2 linked regions of the Homo sapiens genome follow. The protein of the gene in region 1 purifies or fractionates together with the protein of each later gene. This does not show direct contact. Each region holds a gene or a part of one and is shown on either strand. Other genes may lie near its edges.

Region 1 (2,646 bases):
CTAAAAAGTCTGCTTTATTCAAAAAGAGGCAGACTGGTTCCTGGGGTTTCTGCCCTTCTAGGGGAAAGTGCCACATTTAATAAAACTTTTTTTTTTTTTTAAGGGATGGGGTCTTGCTATGTTGCCCAGACTGGCCTTGAACTCCCGGGCTCAAGTGATCCTCTCACTCCAGTGTCTGGGACTACAGGCGTTTGCCACTGCATCCCCCAGAGGAAATCTTACATGGAATTCTAATCCCAAACAGAAAACTAGTTGGACATGGAGTCACTGTGAGTGCAGCGCTGGGGGCAGGGAGCACTCAGTCTTCACAGGCCTCTTGTTTGTGAGCTCCTAAGGCAGCTCCAATGAGCGTCTAGAGGGTTCTCGGTTTGAAAATCTCACCCTGGGAATCTCAGCTAGGGAACTGGATCTCTGAGACCCACATGCAGTGGTACCTGCGCCTTCAGACCTTGATTCAGATTCAAATGCTCTGAGCACACCCAGACCTCAGGAGGTGGCTGACCCAGATTCTCGATTCCAGCTCTCAAGAGAAATGTACCTCTCCGTCTCCTTGTTCACTGGGTAAAAAGATAACTTGCTTCACAAAACCAGGTGTCAAGACAAAACACAGTAGAGCAATGTAAGAAAAATAACTTTGTTATTAAGCATATACAATCATAACAAAAGTACATCATAGTATCACATCCATAATTGCTTGAATGCTAACTTGACTGTTACATGGACCTGTTACAAATAATGAACAACAGAGCTACTCCAGTATATGACTAGTCACTGTGAAATAAAAACAGACCCACGGCACACATGAAATTCCTAAGGGGACTTGCTTTGATCCCCTGGGGAGTAAGAGGGTCCTTTTCTATGATTTCCCTAGAGCAGTAACGTTTGTTGAGGGAGCATGTGAAGTTCATGATTATATGCCTTAACAATTACAGTCATGGTGTGTTTTGTTTTCCAAATGGAAAATTATTTTTGACTTGTTGTGAGATATAAATATTGACTATGCCAGGAAAAAATTCATCTATTTCCCTGAACTCATTATTAATAACTTTAGATGGCTCTATTCTACTTGTTGTTTGGCCTGGATTCCTCCAATAACTTTCCTTTTCAGGAAGGTTATTTGACAGATGTTAAGTCTGCAGAATGAGGCTGCTGTGGTTGTTTCTGGGGCACAGGCTGAGAAGTGGGGAGAGAGAGTGGGGAATGACACCCAAAATATGATGGGGGAGTTGCTACCTGAAAACCTACAGAAATGTCTGGCCTGGAGAAGCCCTCCCTTGCATACCTGGGAACAGGGCTCACCAGGCCCACAGCAATTATGAACCTTGGAAAGATGGCCAAAGCCAGGGTGCTCTTCGCTGGTATTTGGTGGGGTAATACTCACCTTTCCTTCCTTCCAAAACCAATGAACATTTATTATTTACTTGTTGGGCTATGATACTCCTGAGTTTATACAGTAGAAATGACTTCCTTTGGTCAATGAATCCAATGGCAGATGTCGGGCATTAACTCAGAAGGTGAGAAAAGGCACCATTCTCTCTGCAGCCCCACTCACTTTTGGCACAGTATAGCTTATAATTTCTCCCTCTGGAACTGGGAAGGGAGGGGGGTTTCCTAAACTAAAATGCATGCCCTCCATGTACTATTTTCTTTTTTCGAGACGGAGTCTCACTCTGTAGCCAGGCTGGAGTGCAGTGGCGCAATCTTGGCTCACTGCAACCTCCACCTCCCGGGTTCAAGCAATTCTTGTGTCTCAGCTTCCCGAGTAGCTGAGACTACAGGCGTGCACCACCACGCCTGGCTAATTTTTTTTTTTATTTATTTTAGTAGAGATGGGGTTTCACCACGTGTTGGTCAGGATGGTCTTGATCTCCTGACCTCATGATGCGCCCGCCTCAGCCTCCCAAAGTGTTGGGATTACAGGCATAACCACTGTGCCTGGCCCCATGCACTATTTTCAACAGCATATTTTTATTCCCATTGCTTTCCAAGAACAGAGGCAACTTATGAGGTCCTGTGAAGAGGGTGCAAAAAATCGAAGTCAACATTTCTACTAACAGGTTGAGGAGGTGTACAAAGATCTTTTTCCCTATAAAACATGAAATGACCTAGAAGCACTGTTACAAATCTTACCCCAGAAATAGCTTTCCCATTAGGTTTTGAGCAGAAGTCCTGTTTAGACAGTAAAGCTTTTTCTATCTAGTTAAAAGATACATTAGAAATAATGATGCCTTATGATGTCCTATCTTTGAAAAATATGATTTGGGCATAAAAAGTACATATCAGTCTTGCAGTAGTCCAAGTTTTGAAAATCTGAGGATTAAAAATTATTTTCTAAATTAACTTGGTCCAGCAGATTGACATTATAAAATACAGGTTACCATAAGTTTTGCTGGAGAATATTATCTGGAATAGTTTCATGAAACCCAGACAATACTACTTTCCATTAATTCTTTTAATATATTATTCTAGCCTATGGCCAAACATGCAGTTTGGTTGCATTTTATGAGCATTTCACAATAAAGATCATATTTCTAAATACAGTTCACTGTCAAAGAAAAGGTATTAAAATTCTTCTTTTAAAAAAAATCATAGATGGACCTAGCCATCTCTCATACAGCTTGTGCATAGTTTTGTGTGTTTTTTTTT
Region 2 (3,653 bases), on another chromosome or scaffold:
TGGGGAAGTAGGATTCCGGATAAAATATAGGATGTATGGAATATTTGAGACATACTAAAAATTACTTCTTGTTTATCTAAAATTCAACTGGACATCCTCTATTTTATTTGCTAAATCTGGCACACTATCTGGAAGATAGCTCCACTTTCCTGTCTCCGTCTTCTTATCTTCTGGCCTGTAGATGTCTCTGTCCTGGAGGAGAGGTCTAGCTGAGAGCTCAGGGTCAGAGTCTAGGGTTGCATCTAGGTGCTTTGCTGGTGGCCAAGCATGTCCCCAAGGTAGGGTCAGGCAAAGCAGAAGTTGCGTATAAATCTCCATGTTGGATTCTGAGGAACTGATCATGAGGTTTTCCCTCCTGGGTGAAAGAGAAAGCTCTTCCCCAAGTGAGAGACATTTTCTCTTAGTTGTCCTTTGCCCCACCCTGTGACAGGTCTCCTGTGTCATCTGGATGATGCATGCATCAGCAATCCTTGCCACAAGGGGGCACTGTGTGACACCAACCCCCTAAATGGGCAATATATTTGCACCTGCCCACAAGGCTACAAAGGGGCTGACTGCACAGAAGATGTGGATGAATGTGCCATGGGTGAGTAAGCAGAACTTTTTCTGTTCTGTGAAGTGTCTGTTGAGCTCAGCAAATGTTTAAACTGAAGCACATTTTACTGTAGAAGCAAATTACATACACCCAAACCTCAGATTACTCTTGCTACATGGCCAGTGTTTACAAGTGACCTTTCAGCATAGCCATAACCATATATTCCATTCTGGGGATTAACTGTATGAAACGTATGTACTTGATTCTTAATATAAAGCCCTACCTCAATGACAGTTTGGGCAGAAACTGCAATAGCAGAAATGCATAACAGTTGAGGATACTCCGCTTTTATTTCTTTTTAAATTAAGGAAAAAAAAATAGAAAATTGGGAATGATATTATTGAAGGCCTGGCCCTGATGCTATAACCATCAGATGCTCTTCTATTGTTCACATTTGTGGAAACTCAACTGCTTTGATCCCAGTAATTGGTACTTGTGTCTTTCAGCCAATAGCAATCCTTGTGAGCATGCAGGAAAATGTGTGAACACGGATGGCGCCTTCCACTGTGAGTGTCTGAAGGGTTATGCAGGACCTCGTTGTGAGATGGACATCAATGAGTGCCATTCAGACCCCTGCCAGAATGATGCTACCTGTCTGGATAAGATTGGAGGCTTCACATGTCTGTGCATGCCAGGTAAATGGGCCCATCAGCATGTTGGGTCTAGAGAGGAGGGACTGTTCTGAACTTCTCTTGGTAGAGCATTCAGTATACTATTGCAGTCTGATGAGCTCTGTCAGCATTTGATTTCCTTTGCTGACTGGGGACTAGAGGAAGTCAGGGTTCACAAGCAAACCTTCCTTACTCAAAGAGTAAGGCAGTGCTAGAATTCATCAAGCTATGTAGACCAAATTAAACAAGCCTGTTATATCAAAATCCACATGTAATAGAAAATTTCAAAAATGATTTACTGTAAGAATCCTTTAAATAGCAAGTTTTCCTGATACCTTCATGTAATTACAAATACCATACCATTCCATTTATATAAATAAATTTTATCCACAATTATATAGGAAGTTTCCATTTATCTAAAGTGCAGTACATGTTTAGTTGTATTCTGGAGCTCTTCTGCATAGACCATGTCTTTAATTTTGAGAGGATACAGCCAAATCCAGCTTGAAATGATGGCTAACATTGGCTGCTCTGCCTGATTAAGGCTGCCGGCCACTCCAGCCTTGAAAGGCACTGCTGACCTTGAACTGCACCCTGAAGGCAACAACAGCTCCAGCTCAGCTTGTCTTTAGGAACATAGAGTGGGGACATTTTGGGCCTTCCACAGTCCAGAAAGTATGGATTTATCACAGAAAATGTGGAGCAGTCCTTGTTTATATGCTAGGTCTTGCCAATGTCTTTTAATGTAATCCCTTCCCGCTTTTCACAGTGACATGGGTATTTCACAGTATGCCCTGTCCTGCTTGACACTTGGAGTGACTATTTCTCATCATGGCAGAGTTCCTTTTTTCTCTGCAGAAATGTGTGTACTCGCAAAGGATGTAGTTATCATTGCAAATTTGTGCTTCCTTGTCTGGAATACACCTTTCTCTCTCTTTAAGCCACTTGTGTGGTCTGTTTTGTTTAGGTTTCAAAGGTGTGCATTGTGAATTAGAAATAAATGAATGTCAGAGCAACCCTTGTGTGAACAATGGGCAGTGTGTGGATAAAGTCAATCGTTTCCAGTGCCTGTGTCCTCCTGGTAAGTGCCCACGACCTGGCCCTGTTTTCTCTTAAAGCACAAAGCCAACTGACCACAGGGAAGAGAGCAGGGAGAGAATGTGTGTGGGCTGTGCATGAGGAAATCATTAGAGTAAGTGCTTGGTGATAGGAGTGTGTGTGTACAGAAATAGAGAATTTGTTTTAGCTACTATATCTTACAAGTCCTTTGTGGCCAAAAGTCCAAGTCTATTCTTGAATGGCCCATGACCTCTTCGTCTGTGTATATATTTCAGAATGCTCATACCTCACAGAAGCCTTAGTTGTAGGCTATTCGGGATTTTATTTTTTTCCCATGGGTCATATTCTTGAAGGCCCTCTGTGAGACTGTTATTTTTAGACATTTCACCCATGAGTTCAGAAACAGACAACACATGCCAATTTTTCCAAGATTCTCTGTCTCTCCTTTTTTTTCCTCAAGCTATTTTTGAAGATATGCCAAATTGTCCTCCATAGATTGCATCTTACCCCATTGTATCTTCAGAGAGAAGGTTTCTGTTGCCTCTGAAGCTACAGTTACTTGTTTGAGGTTCCACCTATAAATTTCACTTCCTACATCCTTCATTTAGAAGTGAAGTCTGTCTGTGAAGAAGCAATGGTAGAGACACACCACAAGTGCCTCTGATTCCCTGAGTGTCACCTGGTTATTCCAGTTACCTGTTGGGGAGAATAATAAAGCATAGGCTTATTGACCCATTGGTATAAGCCCTGCTAGTAACCTAACATCATTCTCATGGTAAAGGGAGACACAAGATAATCCTTTGACTCATGTTACCACTGTCCCTTTTTGAGGTTTCACTGGGCCAGTTTGCCAGATTGATATTGATGACTGTTCCAGTACTCCGTGTCTGAATGGGGCAAAGTGTATCGATCACCCGAATGGCTATGAATGCCAGTGTGCCACAGGTAAGATTCTTCTCACTTTTCATCTCCTTGGTAGGTCCATCTGAACAAAATAGGGTGATTGTCCCTGTCCTCTGCTAGCTGCTGTGCCAGGCCAGTCCACTCCCAGAGGCTCCTCTGTGTTTAGGAAGAGCTGTTTCTAACAAATTTTTTGCTGCTCTCTTTTTCTGCAGCACCTGCCTCCTCCACCACAACAGTGGTCTGGCCCAGATATTTCCATTTGGTATCCATGTCTTTCTGGGACAGATTTTGGCAGCAGTAAGTTTCCAGCTGGCTAGATTGACTCATTTAGGAAAGAGAAGAAATCCAGTTGAAAGCTATTTTTCACTGGGGCTTCTCAGCAGGAGGCCTGGCTCTGTGTTTCTTGAAGCAAGTGACTGAAAGAAGGCCCAGAAATTTAAAGGCTGAATGTGTACAAGTGCAGGGGTATTCTGCATAAAAGACAC

Evidence for each region.
Region 2: the proteins of CCBE1 (region 1) and NOTCH2 purify together in Homo sapiens (co-immunoprecipitation; one large-scale study listed by IntAct). This does not show direct contact.

What each region holds. Positions count from the first base shown.
Region 1 is NC_000018.10:59,430,319-59,432,964, forward strand, and holds the end of CCBE1 (collagen and calcium-binding EGF domain-containing protein 1 precursor), read right to left. Parts: 3' UTR 621-2,646; downstream 1-620. UniProt on the Homo sapiens protein: Required for lymphangioblast budding and angiogenic sprouting from venous endothelium during embryogenesis.
Region 2 is NC_000001.11:119,965,010-119,968,662, reverse strand, and holds part of NOTCH2 (neurogenic locus notch homolog protein 2 isoform 1 preproprotein), read left to right. Parts: intron 1-430; coding exon 431-586; intron 587-1,041; coding exon 1,042-1,230; intron 1,231-2,173; coding exon 2,174-2,287; intron 2,288-3,096; coding exon 3,097-3,210; intron 3,211-3,653. UniProt on the Homo sapiens protein: Functions as a receptor for membrane-bound ligands Jagged-1 (JAG1), Jagged-2 (JAG2) and Delta-1 (DLL1) to regulate cell-fate determination.